2 separate regions of the Homo sapiens genome follow, and region 1 is linked to region 2. Evidence: fine-mapped expression QTL. Tissue or cell type: whole blood. Region 2 holds a variant in brackets; the other region holds the start of a gene. All regions are shown on one strand. Distances are from middle to middle.

The links. PIP is the estimated chance that this variant, and not a neighbour inherited with it, causes the effect.
Region 1: RPS6KA2 starts here. The variant in region 2 is fine-mapped to the expression of RPS6KA2 in whole blood (INTERVAL, PIP 0.91).

The regions. Positions count from the first base shown.
Region 1 is chr6:166,623,438-166,631,612 of GRCh38, reverse strand. RPS6KA2 (ribosomal protein S6 kinase A2) reads left to right here and starts at 4,362. Exons shown (of 21, transcript NM_021135.6): 1 at 4,362-4,692. The coding sequence starts at 4,594. RefSeq lists silencers at 3,603-3,662, 3,913-4,082, 4,143-4,492.
Region 2 is chr6:166,603,508-166,611,708 of GRCh38, reverse strand. The region is part of intron 1 of RPS6KA2 (ribosomal protein S6 kinase A2); the gene reads left to right. Among named protein-coding and RNA genes, the nearest start is that of RPS6KA2, 20 kb to the left of the region's middle. The variant C/T (reference allele first, on the strand shown) is at 4,634.

The DNA of each region.
Region 1 (8,175 bases), 20 kb before region 2:
TTGATCAGCCTCTCTGTAGATTCTGGCCCTATGGTTTATAAATGGGTTTCAAAAGAAAGTGGTATGAAGGAACATAGTATTTAAAAACCAATAAAATCCAAAGCTGTCCTCACAGCGGGCTGGCGGGGGAGGTGTTGCAGGTGAAGCCCACCTTCTGTGAGCCCTGTGCCTTCCTACCCAGGTTGGATGGGGGATGAGGGCTCCAGCGGGGAGGGAGGAAGCCAACCATGATGGTTTCCACAGCTTGAAACCCAATGTGGTTTTTCTTCCTAAATGTAAGCCAGTCAATAAGGGTCAAGTACAACTGGCCTGTGGGTTTCCACCTGCCTCTCCTGACTACTCAGAAACCAGGCCCTCTGGTTTCAAATGTAAATTCCATTTCCTGGTACTTCACCATTAGAGCTTTATTTCTGTCATTTTGAAGACTTTTACGCATTAAGACTTTCTTTTTAAATTTTCGATATGCTCAGAGATTTTAAACTGTTAAACTGAGGGCACAGGTGTCATTCTGACATGGCTTGGTTGGCACCCAGATGTGAATGAGACCCAAGTGTCCTGTGGGTGAGGGCCAGGGGCCAGCCAGAGACCAGAGGCAAACTTGATCCCTTCTGACTTTTGCCGAGGGCCCAAGAAGCCCTTCCCTGACAGCTCCAGGCCCCTTGCTGACACCTGCTCCGAACGTGCCCCCACCTGAACTGTCCACTACAGTTTACCTTCTAGGGTCTCAGGACTTTAAGACCATCTTCCTGAGCAAGGACTAATTCCTACATTCAAGAAACTTCAAAGTCATAAACATTTCAAGTACACGGGGATCCACAGCCCAGGAAAAGGATTCCTTTCTGTACACTCAGGGACTACACTAAGGGAAGCTTGACTAAACCCATTTGTATCACAGCCACAGGAAGTAGTTCACAGGGGCACACACTGAAGCCCACCTCCCTCCCTCGTACTGGCTGGACACTGTCTCTGGAGCATCCAGCAGGATGCCTGTGATGGGCAGAGCCTTCGAATGCTGATACTCCGGAAAAGCACGACTTCCTGCTTTCGCAGATGGCCAGCACCAGGTGACCCTGGTGATCCTGGTGAAGTTTTGCATCAGGTGAACCTAGTGAATTCACCTCCCATGGCAAAACTTTAGTCCTAATGAAGACCGAATGTTTCAATTTATTTTAAAGATATATAGTTTCACTTGAAGTGCAATTTAGCGTTTTATTGAAAATATGTGGGAGTTTTAGAAGCTTGAAACTTTCAGCAGCCTGTAGGACTGTTTGGAGACGAACAGACATTTGTGGTACTTGACTAATTAGAAGCTCTTGGATGTCACTCAAGCCACTCCTGTGGGGTGCCCCGAGAATGTGGCATCTTCCCATATGCAGAGAGCACACCAGCCTTACCCACAAGGTGCCTGTGTAGCAGGGAGAGATGGGAAACCTTGTCACAGCTGCCTGACAGTGCCCTGTTATTCCTCAGCCTGGGACTCCCGCCTCCTCTTGTCTGTCCAGGAAACTTATTCCCTCATCTTCTTACCCTCAGGGGTTCAGAGCAAAGGCCATCTCCTCCTTGACTTCGCCAATTAGAATTGGCTTCTCATTCATCTCTTACGCATTTCTTTCACTTTACATAAAAACGGCATGAGCTTTGTCTGTTCACTCACCTTCTCTTCCATAAGACTGTGAACTTCTTGGGATGTTGTAATCATTTTGTGTCACAAATGACCACCACAGTGCCAGATGTTAGTGCTCGATAATCACTTGTGGAATTGCATTGACCACACATCAGCTAATCTGGTACTCATAGAAGCAGCAGTCACCACGGAATTCAGTCTCAAACTTACTGTGCTTGAGTCAGAGGAAATGTGAGATACTCAGAGGTCTACCAAGCTCTTTATCTTCTCTTCAGTCCTCTCCCATTCCATCATCTGGGCAAGAGCCTTTATCAAGTTCACTTTCTTTTCTGGTATTTGGTAAGGATAATTTGGATTTCGGTTACAGTGGGTCTTGATATTATACCTACCCTAGATTTAGTGGTTTTGGAGGATTTCATTACATAATCACATGAAGTAGTGTTCCATGATCACTAGAGATTTTGGTATACGTGTATTTTACCAGGAGAAAAACAAAGGCAAACAGATTTATTGTTCTAGCAATGAATTCCAGTGAAATCTGAATGATTTTCCCTCCCAAGTTCAACAGAACAGTTTTGTTGCCTTCAAATTTGGGGAACTAATGAATGTCCCATGAAATATTTCCTTTCCAATTTTGTCAGATCAGGTCAAAATACTATTGTTGGTACAACACAAGCCTTGACTTAGGCCTGCCTGCCTTGGGGCTTTTGTCCTGAACAGGATGCCCATGAGTTGGTATAGGTGGCATTCAGCACTCCTGTCTCCGGCCAGTATTACTGGCTCCCCTTCCGAGGGAAGCATGGTCGGGTTGGTCCTCCCTCATTCCCGGAGTCTGTGTCCAGTTGGAGGTCCATCTACCTCTTCCCGTGCTGGGTACAGAGTGTCTTTGTGTTTGCCTAGAGCCAGGATGCCTGAGGGTCCCAGCAGGGATACAGGGCACTAAGAGGCTGGTTCTGAGAGCACAGATTACTACCCTCCCAGCAGAACCTTAAAGGAAGCAGGCAAAGCAGTTTTCATGGGCACTTAACTGGCACACCATCTTGAAAAGGAGCAAAAAGTGGTGTTTGGTGTCCTTGTGGGGTCCTGCACTTCTGTTTTTAAAGAATAGTCATTATAGATCCTTTAATACATAATATGAAAATCAATTGCACTATTTAAATTCACAAAGCACTCCCACATCCGTGATCTTGCATAAGCCTCTTGGTATCCAGTAAGGGAGGTGAGACAGGTTTCACTCGTATTTTCCTCTTAGAGATGAGTCGTGGGAACAACGTGCAACGGCACCCAAGTTCACCAAGCAAGGAAGGGGCAGCGCCAGAGTCGTGGTGCTAAACTCCCGGCTTCCACTCCGGAGCAGCACCGCTCAACGCGGGTCTCCAGGAAACCCAGAGAGCCTATCTGACCTCACCTCAGCCCGGATGCAGCATGACTTTAAAGCTCTTATTTAAGGACATTCTGACCTCTCTACCCACCTTAGCCAAAATAGACTACACAAGTATTAACGCAACATCTGACTAGTCCAGGGAGCAAAACAACGCGAGGATTTTGCAGTTCGCACTGCAAAAGAGCAAGCAAGACTTGTCAACTCACCACCGCACTCGTTTCTGCTCTTTGCAGGTGGTGATGGTGCTATGTCAATGGGCTCGGTTTCTCCCTGTTTTTAAATACAAACTCAACACGTGCACAAGAGGAAAACAGAGCAGGCTGCACGGGGTCGTGAGCCCGCATTCTCGGCCCTGCTGCAGCCCTTGGTGAGCATTTCTAGGAAAAAAAAGAAAAAAGTGTTTCCCTTTAAGGCGGATCCCGAGCGGCGCTGCCGCCAGCAGCGGGTCTGAGGGCCTTGCCCTAGACCCAGGTCACCCCGCCCGGGTATTCCCAGCGCGGGCCCTGATAAGCCATCTGTGTAGACGTTTCCTAGAGCGGGACCGGCTGCGGAGGGCGGATGCGTCTTTGTTCTGCAGCCGCGGGAGGGAGGCGCCCCGAGGGCTGCCTGAGCCCCCGCCCTCGGGCGCCTTTGTCCGCTCCGGCGGAGGGAAGGCGCCGGTTCCGCGGAGGGCGGCTCCTGGCCGAGCTGCAGGGCCCGCTGGCAGGCGGCGGTCCCTCGCTCGCTGTGCCGCTGAGGTTTTGGCTGCGTTTGCTGATCAACAATTAAAGTTTGGTTCGGCAGAGAAAAACATGATGACAAAGTGTGCATAGGGATGTTTTAAGGAAGGAAAACATAATGACGGCCCCAAGCTGGAAGAAAGAGCAGCCGGGCCGAAGTTGCGTGACAGGAACGCCCGCGACTGCGCGGCTCCGGAGCAGCTGCACAACTCGCCCGGGCCGGGAGCTGTCCCGGGCCGAGGCTCATTAGGTATGCGGCGGCTGCGGGCACTGATTGGCGGGCAGTGCTGTGGGCGGGGCCGTGGGCGGAACCGCGTGGGGGCGGGGCTGCACGGAGCTGGTTCTTGTAGGAAGGAGTAGAAAGAGGAGGAGGGATGGGCACCTGGAACCACAGGGCGGCGCTGATGATTGGAGGTATCGGCAGAGGCGGGGCTCTCCCGGGCGGGGCGGTGGGCTCTCATTGGCAGTGCTGGTGGTGGGTGGGAACGGGAGGGGTGGTGAGCGCTGATTGGCCGTAGTGGCGGGGCGGGGCGGAGGAGGAGGAGGTGTGCGTGCCGGGGCGCGGAGCGGCGGGCGCTGATTGGTGGTAGTGGTGGTGGGCGTGGTGTAGGCGTGGCGCGTGGCCGGCGCTGGTACTCGCAGGGGAGGCGGAGAAGGAGGCGGAGGGAGCGATTGTGGCCCCGGCCGCGGTGGCCGGCGCGGCCTGCCCTTTGTGACCGCAGCTCGCGCCCCACGCCCCGCGCCCATGGCCGCCGTGCCGGGCTCCCTGGCCACGCGTGCCCGCCCGCGGACCTGAGCCCCGCGCCTGGGATGCCGGGGATGCGCGTCCCCCGGCCCTGCGGCTGCTCCGGGCTGGGCGCGGGGCGATGGACCTGAGCATGAAGAAGTTCGCCGTGCGCAGGTTCTTCTCTGTGTACCTGCGCAGGAAGTCGCGCTCCAAGAGCTCCAGCCTGAGCCGGCTCGAGGTAATGCGGCCGCCCTCGGGGCGCGCAGGTGCCGGGCACTGAGCGGGCCGTGGTCGCCCGAGCCCGCCTCGCCACCCCTGGGTGGACCCCGAGACCCGTCAGGGAGTTCAAGTTACTGGAAAGCTGGTCCGGTTCCGAAAATCGAACCAAACGGCTCCAAACGTTATCGCTGGGACTCCGTAGTAATTGGGCGGTCCGTGGGTCCTCGCGGGGGCAACTCCACCCCCACTGCATTTCCAGCTGGTTTCTCCGCCGCTGGCTGCACGGGGTGTGGGATGGTCCCCTGTGGGCCACAGGGAGCCCCGGGTGAGGAGGGGCTTTCTCTGCAGCTAGACCGCCGAGTGGCGCGGAGCGCTCCGCGGGGGTCCCTCAAAGTCCCGAGTGGAGAAGCCCCCCAGCTCCGCCCTCCGAGGCGCTGATCAGGTGCTGTCTGCCGTGCCCGGCCGGCAGGTTCCACCTTATCTTGTAGCTCATTCGTGCACTTGAAGTCAGTGTAGAATTCACAGAACGGGGAAGAACAGGCAGCAGCACAATCTGCTTAGGCGTCTAAAACGGCGTTCAGGAGTAAAGAGCCTGATGCAATATCCTCGCAGCGCCGAGGCTGATACAGATTCGTCCTGAAAACCCAGAGTACTCCCAAAGCCCTGTCCTTTCTACCTGTCCCGCATCTTGGCATCTTAGAGTTTCCTTGTGGACGGTTCTCTCGTGGTGTGTTTTATTTCAACCATCAAATCTTATTCTCTTATTCCCAGTGTCCAAATCACATTGTTGAATCTATAGATGACAAAACAGTGAAACGTGTTTAAGTGAAAAAGACATGGTGATGGGGAGACTGAGGCTGGGACCCAAAGATTTCGCCTGACACTGTCCCGCCTTTGCCTCAAGGCTGGCACCTGTGGGGTTTTGGTTGGTTTGTTTCAGCTGGAACAATCTCAAATGTTTCATCTTGGTTTTCTTTGTCCCAGCTGCCATGATATTAGACACAGACATGGGTTCTGTAACCATTGAGAGACCTGAGGAATAGACAAAAAAGTAGAAGAGAATTACTTGTTTAAAAAGTTTCTCTTATGGCATCCCTAAATCAGAATTGGAAGTACTAGATAGGATCAGTATGGCCGGTTCCCGAGGGTAAAACACATCTTTCAAACAAAACTGTTAATCCAGTACTGGAGGAGGGCTTGCTTTTAAGTCTAATATTGAAAGAAATGAAGCACACCAGTGAGGCAAATCATTTTCCTGGGACACAGGCACTTAAAAAATCTGAAGTTGACAAGATCAGAAACTCAGAACAGTATTTATCTTTATCCGGATACATGTCTTTGTTTCCTGTTTCATCTCAATGCCAAGTTTATTAGACAACTCCTTGTCTCCTTCCATTTACTGTCTTTGCCAAGAAGAGGTACACGTGTGAGCACACTCCAGGCATTGTTTATGAAGAGCAGCACTAGACACTGGCTGACCAGTGGGAGTTCAGGAATCTGCCTGATTCTGGATACACACGCCTCTGGTGTCACAGGGTTCTGCAAGGAGGGCTGGGCTGCAGGCGTGCCTCCGGAAAGAATACAGTGGGAAACAAGCGGGGGGGGGGGTGGGGGGGTGGTGGGAATAGGAAACGAGGTTTCTTCCATGTAGAAATAAAATTTCTAGAAGTCATACATAAACCATCAGCGATGTAGGAGGTCAAATGGGCTGAAAATACATGTAGTCTAAGAGCAAGTAGTCAATTAGTGCTTCCTGTGTGCCAGATCCCGTACTAGGTGCTGGAGGTCTCACTAAGATGGTCAATAATGGCCGGGCGCAGTGGCTCATGCCTGTAATGCCAGCCCTTTGGGAGCCTAAGGCGGGCGGATTATGAGGTCAGGAGATCGAGACCATTCTGGCCAACATGGAGAAACCCCATCTCTACTAAATATACAAAAATTAGCTGGGCATGGTGGCGCGTGCCTGTAATCCCAGCTGCTCAGGAGGCTGAGGCAGGAGAATCGCTTGAACCAGGGAGTCAGAGGTTGCAGTGAGCCGAGATTGCGCCACTGCACTCCAGCCTGGCGAGAGAGCGAGACTTGTCTCAAAAAAAAAAAGGTCAATGCTAATACAATGCTCTCTTTTTTACAAATGCATTCCCCAGCTTTCTATTATTTGATACTTGTGAAAATCGGGGTAGCATATGTAACTTTCCTCATTCTATTGCTAAGGGGAAGAAACCCTGAGAGTTTGAGAGTCTTGTTAAAAGCTTTCCAAGGAATTCATTCTGCAAGTGTTTATGGAGGACCGGGTCTTGGGCTGGTCTTTTTCTGGATACTGTGTCCAAAAAGACACGAGACATAGAAGTCCTGGCCTCAGGGCACTTCCACCCAGTGATGAGTCTCACAAGCAGCTGACTTTGTGCCCCAGTCCAGTAAGTTCCTCTTCTGCGCCCTACCCATACTTGAGAAGGCTGCCTGTTCGTTTGTGTGTTCACAGCTGGTTATAGGCCAAGAAGCACTCATCAAAAAATGTAAAACTGAGCAGGGGAGGTCTGTCAATGGATTGAGGTTGAGAAATAGGACACAAAGTACTGAACACAGATGTGTATTTCCTCTGTGTGGATGAATGAGAAAGATAACTTGTTTTATAATAGGAAACATTTTAAAATTGTTTCTGTGAAATTTATATTTTGAAATATACAAAGACTTTGAAAATTTTTGTTATTTGAAATTCAAAGTCTAGTGACATAAACAGGAAATTAATGTAGTTACTTTAAGTTGAAAACAATATCTTCATTTAAAAGGCTTTCAGAGAGAGACTCAGTCCTAATGTTTTCATACTTGATTTTATTTATTTTCATTTTTTATTTTTTTAAATAATGAGAAATTTCTAAAGTTCCTTCTTTTTTTTCCTCTCTTTTACATTTATGCTTGGCAAAACTTCTCTGAACATACTTGATTTTAAAATAAATTTTACGTCCATAACCCAACATTTGCTAAACCCTAAGTGACAGAGAAGTCAGGTTACTTAATCATATTTGGAAACAGTTTATTAATTACAGATTAAAATGAAATTCACTGAATATTTTTGTCCTCTATCAGCATAGAACCAAGTGAGATGGCCAAGTTGTTGACTCTGGCAACTATAATTTTGGGGGTTTCTAGAGGAAAACTGGGTATCTTCCATAGACTTCCATGGGTGTGCCCCAGAAAGGTGTCAGGTCTCAGTGACCGCAAGACCCTCATCCCCAAGAGAGCTCTGCTTTCAGGGCATTGACAGTATTGCCTAAGAACCACGACACATTGCTGGGCAGAGTAACCTGCATCTCATTCAACAGTCCACTTCATAGATGAGGAAAGGGGACACTGGCCCATTTGCTAAGCTGGAGTTACCGTCACCTGGCTGGGATAGGATACCCTCTGAGTGTCTGGCCTATGAGTCACTGCACTTATCTACAAAATACGTTACCCATGCCAGTTGCCTAATGAGCTAAGGTGGCTTTGAGAGCAAGGAAATGCA
Region 2 (8,201 bases):
TGGGAAATCCACAGAGAAATGAGATTGGAGCCCTGATCAGCCTGAGCTTGAAGTCCACATTACCTTGAGATATTTCAGTTATATGAGCCAAGCAATTTCTTTCATTGTTTAAGCCAGTTTGATTTGGATTTTCTCTGACACAGATAAAGGCGTTGTGACACACATATTTTATCTCATTCACTCTGTACAAGAAGCTTGCCTGAGGATAAGTATGTTATATACCTTTTGCCTAGATGAGGAATTGGAATCCAATGTTGAAAAGGTCCTCTGGCCAGGAGCAGGATAGGTCATGTCGGATGATGGTGGAGTGGGTGACTGAGATGGAACAGCTTTTCAGCAGCTACAGGCTAGTGATACTTTCTGAGCAGAGGGGCATGAATCTGGTAATGTATTTGTGTTATTGGTTCATTAGAATAAATGGGCACATATGGTATATTTAGCAGCTTTGGACTTGTTGAAATTATGCTAAATGGCTATATGTGAAAAATATGGGCATGTCTTAATAGGATGTATATTTGGAAAATATAATAATACTTTTAAATTTGCTTCAAAACATAGTAGAAATGCTTTTTCAGTTTTACCAGTCTATTTGAGATAGTAAACTGGGATAAATAGGATTAAATTTATTTCATTCGTTGAAAAAAATAAATATATTATCTGTCTGCAATCATTCTTTTTATCCTTTCAGGGTATTTAGTAGGTTTAAGGATACTTTTGTTCTTTTTCTTTGTACTTCTCATTCTCATAATACTCTCCCAGGCTAAAATCCAGAATATGCAGATAGTAATTTAAAGAAGTGAGGATTCAAAAAAGAAAGACAGAAATAAGTACTGATTTTAGGAAAGGTATATTATTTATTACATGTGGCTTTCCAGTTTTAAAAACTATTCTGTTATAACTCTATAATAAATGTAATAATTGTATATGCATATATTTGTTGGTAGGATGAATTTTATGAAAACATGGTAACATTATTTCTTTACCACTACTTTCCATATGATTTTATGGTCAAATATTTGGCAGCGCTGCCTTTTAACTGCAGTGATTATGTTTTGATAAATTAGTAGAAGGAATTTGTTATTAATATAGGAAACAACGGAGAAGGTAAAGACTCCTGAGGGGCCCTGGGTGAAAGTAGCATTTTTGGAGGCCTCCATGGCCCTCGGCAGAAACACATTTTATGCTAAATGCATATTTAAGTGTTTGGCCTCATGAAGTGTGTAACCCAGTTGCATAGGTTTTATCTGTATTAACCATCATGAATTCTTTCCTTTGAATTTTGTTCTTGATTTTTGCTACAGCCGATGGGTAACTAGTTCTCTCAGAATTCAGAAATTCACATGAATTTCCTGCTGCGCTTCCTGCTGCCAAGGCCTATGTTGGTGGGATTATCTCCTTATTCACGGGAAAGGAGCGGAAGGCCATTTGCATTTACCTTCTGTGCTACTGCCAGGCTGCTCAGGAGTGGAAAGAATCATTTACGACTTGCTATTTATACATTGATCAAATGACGTGCCTCACGTTGTAGTTGATGCCACACGTGCTTATATAACCATTTCAGAACATCTTTCCCTCACGCTGTTTACCATGAAGCATTGCTGTTTCTAGCAAGCTATTTGGTTGTAAAAGATCTCATGTTGAACTAAATAGCAAGAGATATAATGAGGAGATAGGAGGAGAGAAAAAAATCAAGATGAGAAAATGAGTAGGAATGATTAGAAAAATATGTAAAAGAGAACAAGAATAACTAGTCCGAAGCTAATACATTTTTTAAATCTTCAAATAAGTGTAGGGAGATGTTTTCCAATTGCCTGAGTATTCCAGTTTGTAAATTTCCCATTTTCGAGTAATTACAGATTAATAAAATATACTTGACACTAAAACTTGTCTAAATAAAATTAAACTTTTACGCCAGGCACGGTGGCTCACGCCTGTAATCTCAGCACTTTAGGAGGACGAGGCGGGCAGATCAGCTGAGGTCAGGAGTTCGAGACCAGCCTGACCAACATGGTGAAGCCCCGTCTCTACTAAAAATACAAAAATTAGCTGGGAGTGGTGGCATGCGCCTGTAATCCCAGCTACTCAGGAGGCCGAGTCAGGAGAATTGCTTGAACCCAGGAGGCGGAGATTACGGTGAGCCAAGACTGCACTCCAGCCTGGGCAACAAGAGCAAAACTCTGTCTCAAAAAAAAAAAAAAAAAATTAAACTTTTGATAATTCAGTATATCAGTGTCTCAGTGCTCCTGAGTCATTGATATAAGTACCAAACTTTGCAATACACCATGGTAGCTATAGCAATTTTAACCATAGAAAAATAATGAGAATCATCTAATCTCACCCCAGACAGCCCAACAGATCTTTCTGTAACAACCCCGAAAGTAGATCTAAATCAAGGTTCTGCCATTTATCTCACACCCGGAACCCAGTTTTTTAAACATCTTATGCAGAAAGAGCCACTTTTTAGGGGCATCTGCTTCATCTCTGTAGTACCTCCCACTCCACTGAACTCAGGGTCCTATTGAACCCCAGTTTGAAAACCAGAAGTCTAAAGTCTGTGCAGACATTTATCCAGGGGGAGGAACTGAGTCACAACCTCCTTACTTGGCTCTCCCTATATTTCCATTCCTTAATCCTAGAGTGGAGTAAACAGAACCCCTTGCTCTCTCTCAGGCCTGACAATTTTCCAAACCGCAGTGGAGATGGGGTTGAACTGGGGCTGAGCCTATGACATGTTCCGGAAAGTGCCCTTCAGAGTAAATCCCCAATCTTAAGTTGTTTATTCATTGTTTTCTTTCATAAATATTCTACATGAAAAAATTAGCCTTAGCTTGCCGGTTGTTTGGATTTGTGAATAAACATGACTTTGGGCCTAAATATATATCAACTTAAAAAAAAACAGAACAAACATCTAAAGAATATCTCACCATCCACGATGGGCCAGGACTGGAGCCCTAAAAAAGTTGAGAAAGTCTTTCTTTGAAGCAGAACAGAAATAGAAAACTTGTGAGGGACCATTCTGTAGGCCTCATAGGAAAAAAAGCCATGAGGCACTTTAACTGAATGTTGCCTGCATCTGAGTGGTACCCAGGGACAAGTGCTTTGGTGCCTTTTAGACTTAAACAATAATCAACTTGTTATGTTTTCCCTGAGACTCCAAACTTACTTCTGATTTTGTCTCCCTCTCAGAGATAAACAATCCTGAATTCAATAACTAGAAATTCTTAAAGGGGAATTTTTTTTTTCATGCGCCGATGGATTGTTGAGTCAGGTTAGATGTAAGAATTTTGAGTCAAGCATTTTTAATTTTTGTAGCACCAAATTGGATTGAATTCACATGAATATAGAGATATTGGTTACTACCATACAAATAAGGTTATCCAACTTCTAGACTGTTCTATACAGTGGCTAAGAGAAGCGTTGTCTACCCTCTGGGGGACTCTGTTTCAAAATATACCATATTGTTTGCATTCTAAATTTTATTTTGTTGCCAGGAAGCAAATATCCTGAGGAAATTACTTATCATACACTAAGCCATTGCCTCCTGGGAGTCTTTGTGAAAAATTCCAAATCTGTCCTGAGTATGGACTCAGAATGAAAGCTAGATGTGTGGAAGAAGGCACTCCCCTCCATTCTTCAAGATGCACTATAATAAAAGGCACCAAGACAGTCTCTCTCTCTCTTTTTTTTTTTTTTCTTTCTGAGACAAGGTTTTGCCTTCTCGCTCTGGCAGAAGTGCAGGGGCACGATCATGGCTCACTGCTGCTTCCACCTCCTGGGCTTAAGTGATCCTCCTGCCTCAGCCTCCTGAATAGCTGGGACCACAGGTACATGCCACCTGGTGCCCGGCTAAAGGAAAGTCCCTTCTGAAGAACCATCTCAGTATTTGTTTTGCTTCAAATTGCCCTGAATGCCATAACATTTTGTTTCTGTTTTTGCATACAGCTTTGAGATCTAATTCACATACCATACAATTCACCCATTTAAAATGTACAATTCCATGTTTTAAGTGTATTCACAAGGTTGTGCAACTGTTACCACATCTGTAATGTTTTCGTCCTTCAGAACAGAACCCTGTCCCCCTTTTCCCCTCCACGACCCCCTGCAGCCCTACATCCACTTTCTGTCTCCGTAGAGTTGCCTATTCTGGGTATTTCATATAAACGGAATCATACAATGTGGGGTTTTGTGGCTGGCTTCTTTCACTTAGCCTCATGTATTCAAGGTTCGTTCGTGTTGTAGCAGGTATTTCTCTCTATTGCCAAGTAATATTCCACTGCATGGATATACTACATTTTTTTAATCCATTAGTAAGTTGATAGACATTTGGGTTGTCCCTACTTTTTGGCTGTTGTGACTAATGGTGCTGTGAACATTTTTGTACAGGTTTTTGTGTGGACATATGTTTTTATTTCTCCTGGGTTTATACCTGGGAGTGGAATTGCTGGATCTGGGATGGCAACTCTATGTCTGAGCTTTTGAGGAACTTCTAGACCATTTTCCAAAGTGATTGCAACATTGTACATTCCCACCCAGCAGTGATAGATGGAGCTTTTTTTTTTTTTTTTTTTGACGGAGTTTTCCTCTTGTTGCCCAGGCTGGAGTGCAATGGCACAATCTCGGCTCACTGCAACCT[C/T]TGCATCCCGGGTTCAAGCAATTCTTCTGCCTCAGTCTCCCTAGTAGCTGGGATTATAGGCACCTGCCAGCACACCCAGCTACTTTTTGCATTTTTAGTAGAGACAGGATTTCACCCTGTTGGTCAAGGCTGGTCTCAAACTCCTGACCTCAGGTGATCTGCCCATCTTGGCCTCCCAAAGTACTGGGATTACAGGCGTGAGCCACCATGCCCAGCCGAGATCCATTTTTTCCCCACTTGTTATTGTTCACCTTTTGAATACAGCCATCCTGGTGGGTATGAAGTGGTGCCTCCTTATGGTTTTGATTTGCATTCCTCTGATGACAAATGATGTAGAGCATCTTCTCATGTTTTTATTGGCTGTATGTTTTTGGAGAAATGTCACATCAGGTCACTAGCCCATTTTTAAAAATTGGGTGATTTATCTTTTTATTGTTGAGTTATAAGAATTATGTATATATTCTAGATACAAGTGCCTTCTCAGGCATATTATTTGCAAATACTTTTCCCCGTAGTGGGTTGTATTTTCATTTTCTTGATGGTATTGTTTACAGCAAAAATGCCATAACTTCTGTGTTAACCATATTATTCCACCATAATTTGCAGTCGCTTTGAAAGGCCTACACAACGCTGCTTAGATATTCACATTTCCAATAGGGAGTTGTATTCAGGATATATTTTTGCAGAATTAAATTCACCATGCCAGGTGCTTTTTGCTTTTGCTTTTCTTGTGTAATCGAGCAAGGAAGGCAAGAGGGCTATTCAGCTTTGGGTCTCTCATGGTGCACAGGTGAGCGTGTTTCCAGGGAAATCATTTTACCTCTCGTGCAAGCACTCCGACCTTGTGGGTCTCAAAAGAAGTGGGGTGCAGATGGCTGAAGTCTGGTCTATTTAAATAGTCTTGTATGGTGTGCACCATTTTATTTTCATAAGGGCAGGAGTTGGAACTGCATCCTTGGGCTGTAGCTGTAATAAAAGCGTCAAAGAGCCTAATGTGTGCAGCCCCGCAGTCCTACCATGGGCGGCATTATGCTGCCTTTGCCCTCTTGTAGACACTCATCAAGGTGCTTTGCTGGCAGAAGGAAATCAGGACCCAAGGACCGTGATCTGATAACAGGTGCTGATTTAGTGCCTTAGGCTAAATCACATCAACCTGCAAAGTAAAGAGCTTTCTATTTTGGTTGCTGCGCCTCTGGGCAGCGTAATGCCTTTATGTCTCCACCACTGGTCATGTGTTTTCATTTCAGGTCTTATCACTACAGAAAACAATCTTTTGATTTGCTCTTTTCCATAAAATTTGTGTGCTATTTTTATTTTGATGTCACCTTTGAAAGATCTCAGTTGAATGTGTGGAGGGAGGTGTATCTGTGCTTGTGTGTGTGCGTGAGTGCATTTCTATCTAAAATGCCACCTCACGTGGCCCTTTCACATTAAATCATACTCTACATGTTAATTTATTGTTCTAATATCATATTTCACATGCTAATCATTCTACATGCTAATTTTTTGTTCTAATGTCACATGGCATTTTACGTGCCTAGATAGGAAGCATGATATTTTAAAACTTAAATAGGAATGTCTATTAGAGACTTATAGATATCAATCCCGATAACATAATTGGATTAAGTCTTAATAAGCACATTTAAGCATCAAGCAGAACTTTCACATCCCTATATTTAGTCTCATTCGTATTTTAGGCTACGTGACCACCCAAGGGATGCCTTTTAAGGAGCTCGTAATCTAATTAAGGAGATAAGAGTCATTGTCTTGAAATTATTGTAAATGCTGTAAGACTTGATGTCATCTACCTGTTGTAGATTGCAAACACAATGTGGCTTTAGAGGGGTAGAATGTCGTTGATAAAATGAACATGGATCTACTGGCAACACCCAAGGCCCTTGGGGGCCAGGGCCCCTGTGCAGGTGACTTGGTTGCAGGTTGCATCATCTCCCGCCAGAATCTGGTTGGAGGCAGTTCTAGGAGAGGCAAGAGGGATATTCCCAGTGAAGAGTGCCACGTGGTCGCAGTGAAGCCCTGGAACGGGAGGGCCTGAGGGGCCAGCTGTGGGAAGCATGATATTTTAAAACTTAAATAGGAATGTCTATTAGAGACTTATAGATATCAATCCCGATAATATAATTGGATTAAGTCTTAATAAGCACATTTAAGTGTCAAGCAGAACTTTCACATCCCTATATTTAGTCTCATTCGTATTTTAGGCTACGTGACCACCCAAGGGATGCCTGTGGCACTGGCGCACAGAGCCCTGGTAGGTCTGCGTTGGGTGAGGAAGGCTCGTAGTCTTCTCCTTCTTTACCTCCATTAGTGTGGATCATTATTTTGCTGTGGAAATATGAGTGTTTGATCACAGTTTGCTGCTCCAGACATCAGGCGCCCCATGTTCTGAGCACTGTCCATATTTATGTTGACTTCTTACAGCAAGCCCATGACAGAAGGACTTTTAAAAACTCTGATGCTCAGGTAAGGCCCGAGGCACGGCATATGAGGTGCCTGGATGCCACCTCCCCCAGCTGGGGATGGCCCCGCCCGGGAAGCTCCCTTACGATCCCCAGTGAACCCAGCTCCGGCAACTTCAGTTACCCCAGCGGGGAAGCACGCACCACTCTGGGCATTATAAAACATGGAGTTTATGTCTTTATTAATTTCTGAATTTTTTTTTTTTCAGTTTTCCACATACTCATTCCAAACCCCCAAATAGATCATATAAGCAAACCTATTTGGGGAAACGTTTTTTAAAAAAAGTAAGACATTCCTCATTTTTTATTAGTGAGCTGTTATGTTCCCATTCAAGTAAACTCTGAAACTTACAAACACTGATACGAAAACAATGATTTCCCAGATCATTTGTCCCCGTCACATCTCCATGCAGAGCTGTCCACAGGGGAATGTGCTGGTCCAGATGCATTTTACGTAGAGTTGCTCACAGTGAAAAACTTTCAATTGGCAGAGGCACCTTCTCTGGAGCTTTTCCATGGAGGGTTAATCAGGATGGAACTCTTCTTAATTTTATTTTTACTTCTTTCCACCTTTACACACTTTGTTTCATAGTCTCGCCCTTTTCTCTTCGTGACTTCTAGGAGGGACACGTTAGGACGAGTTGGAGAAGTTCTTAGCTCTCATCTCACCCCTTCCAACATGTCAGCTTTGCGGCAATCCAGTTTCTGCCTAAAACAACCTCGATTGCCCGTTTGGTGGGTGCTGAGGGGGTCTTTGGCTCCTCTAACACCCCTGACTTGTTATCGCAAACAACAGTACGGGGGCATTTATTTGATACACCTGGGCCACAGCCATTCCCTGGCCTCCCTTCTGCAACCTCGCAATATTCAGTATCCTTCCTGTGCCTGTTAACTTTGTCTAACTTGAGCCTTAGATCACCCGGAATGTGCCAGCCATGTTCACGATGCCCTCCCAATGACAGGTGTTGCCCAGGTGGAAGCATCTTCTGTCATGTCCCCTCCCATGACTCCTTCAGCAACCTGCACTTCCATGCCAAAGCCCTTTACCTGGGCGCCCTCGACTCCAGAAGGTGACTGGTCGGTAGCTGCCC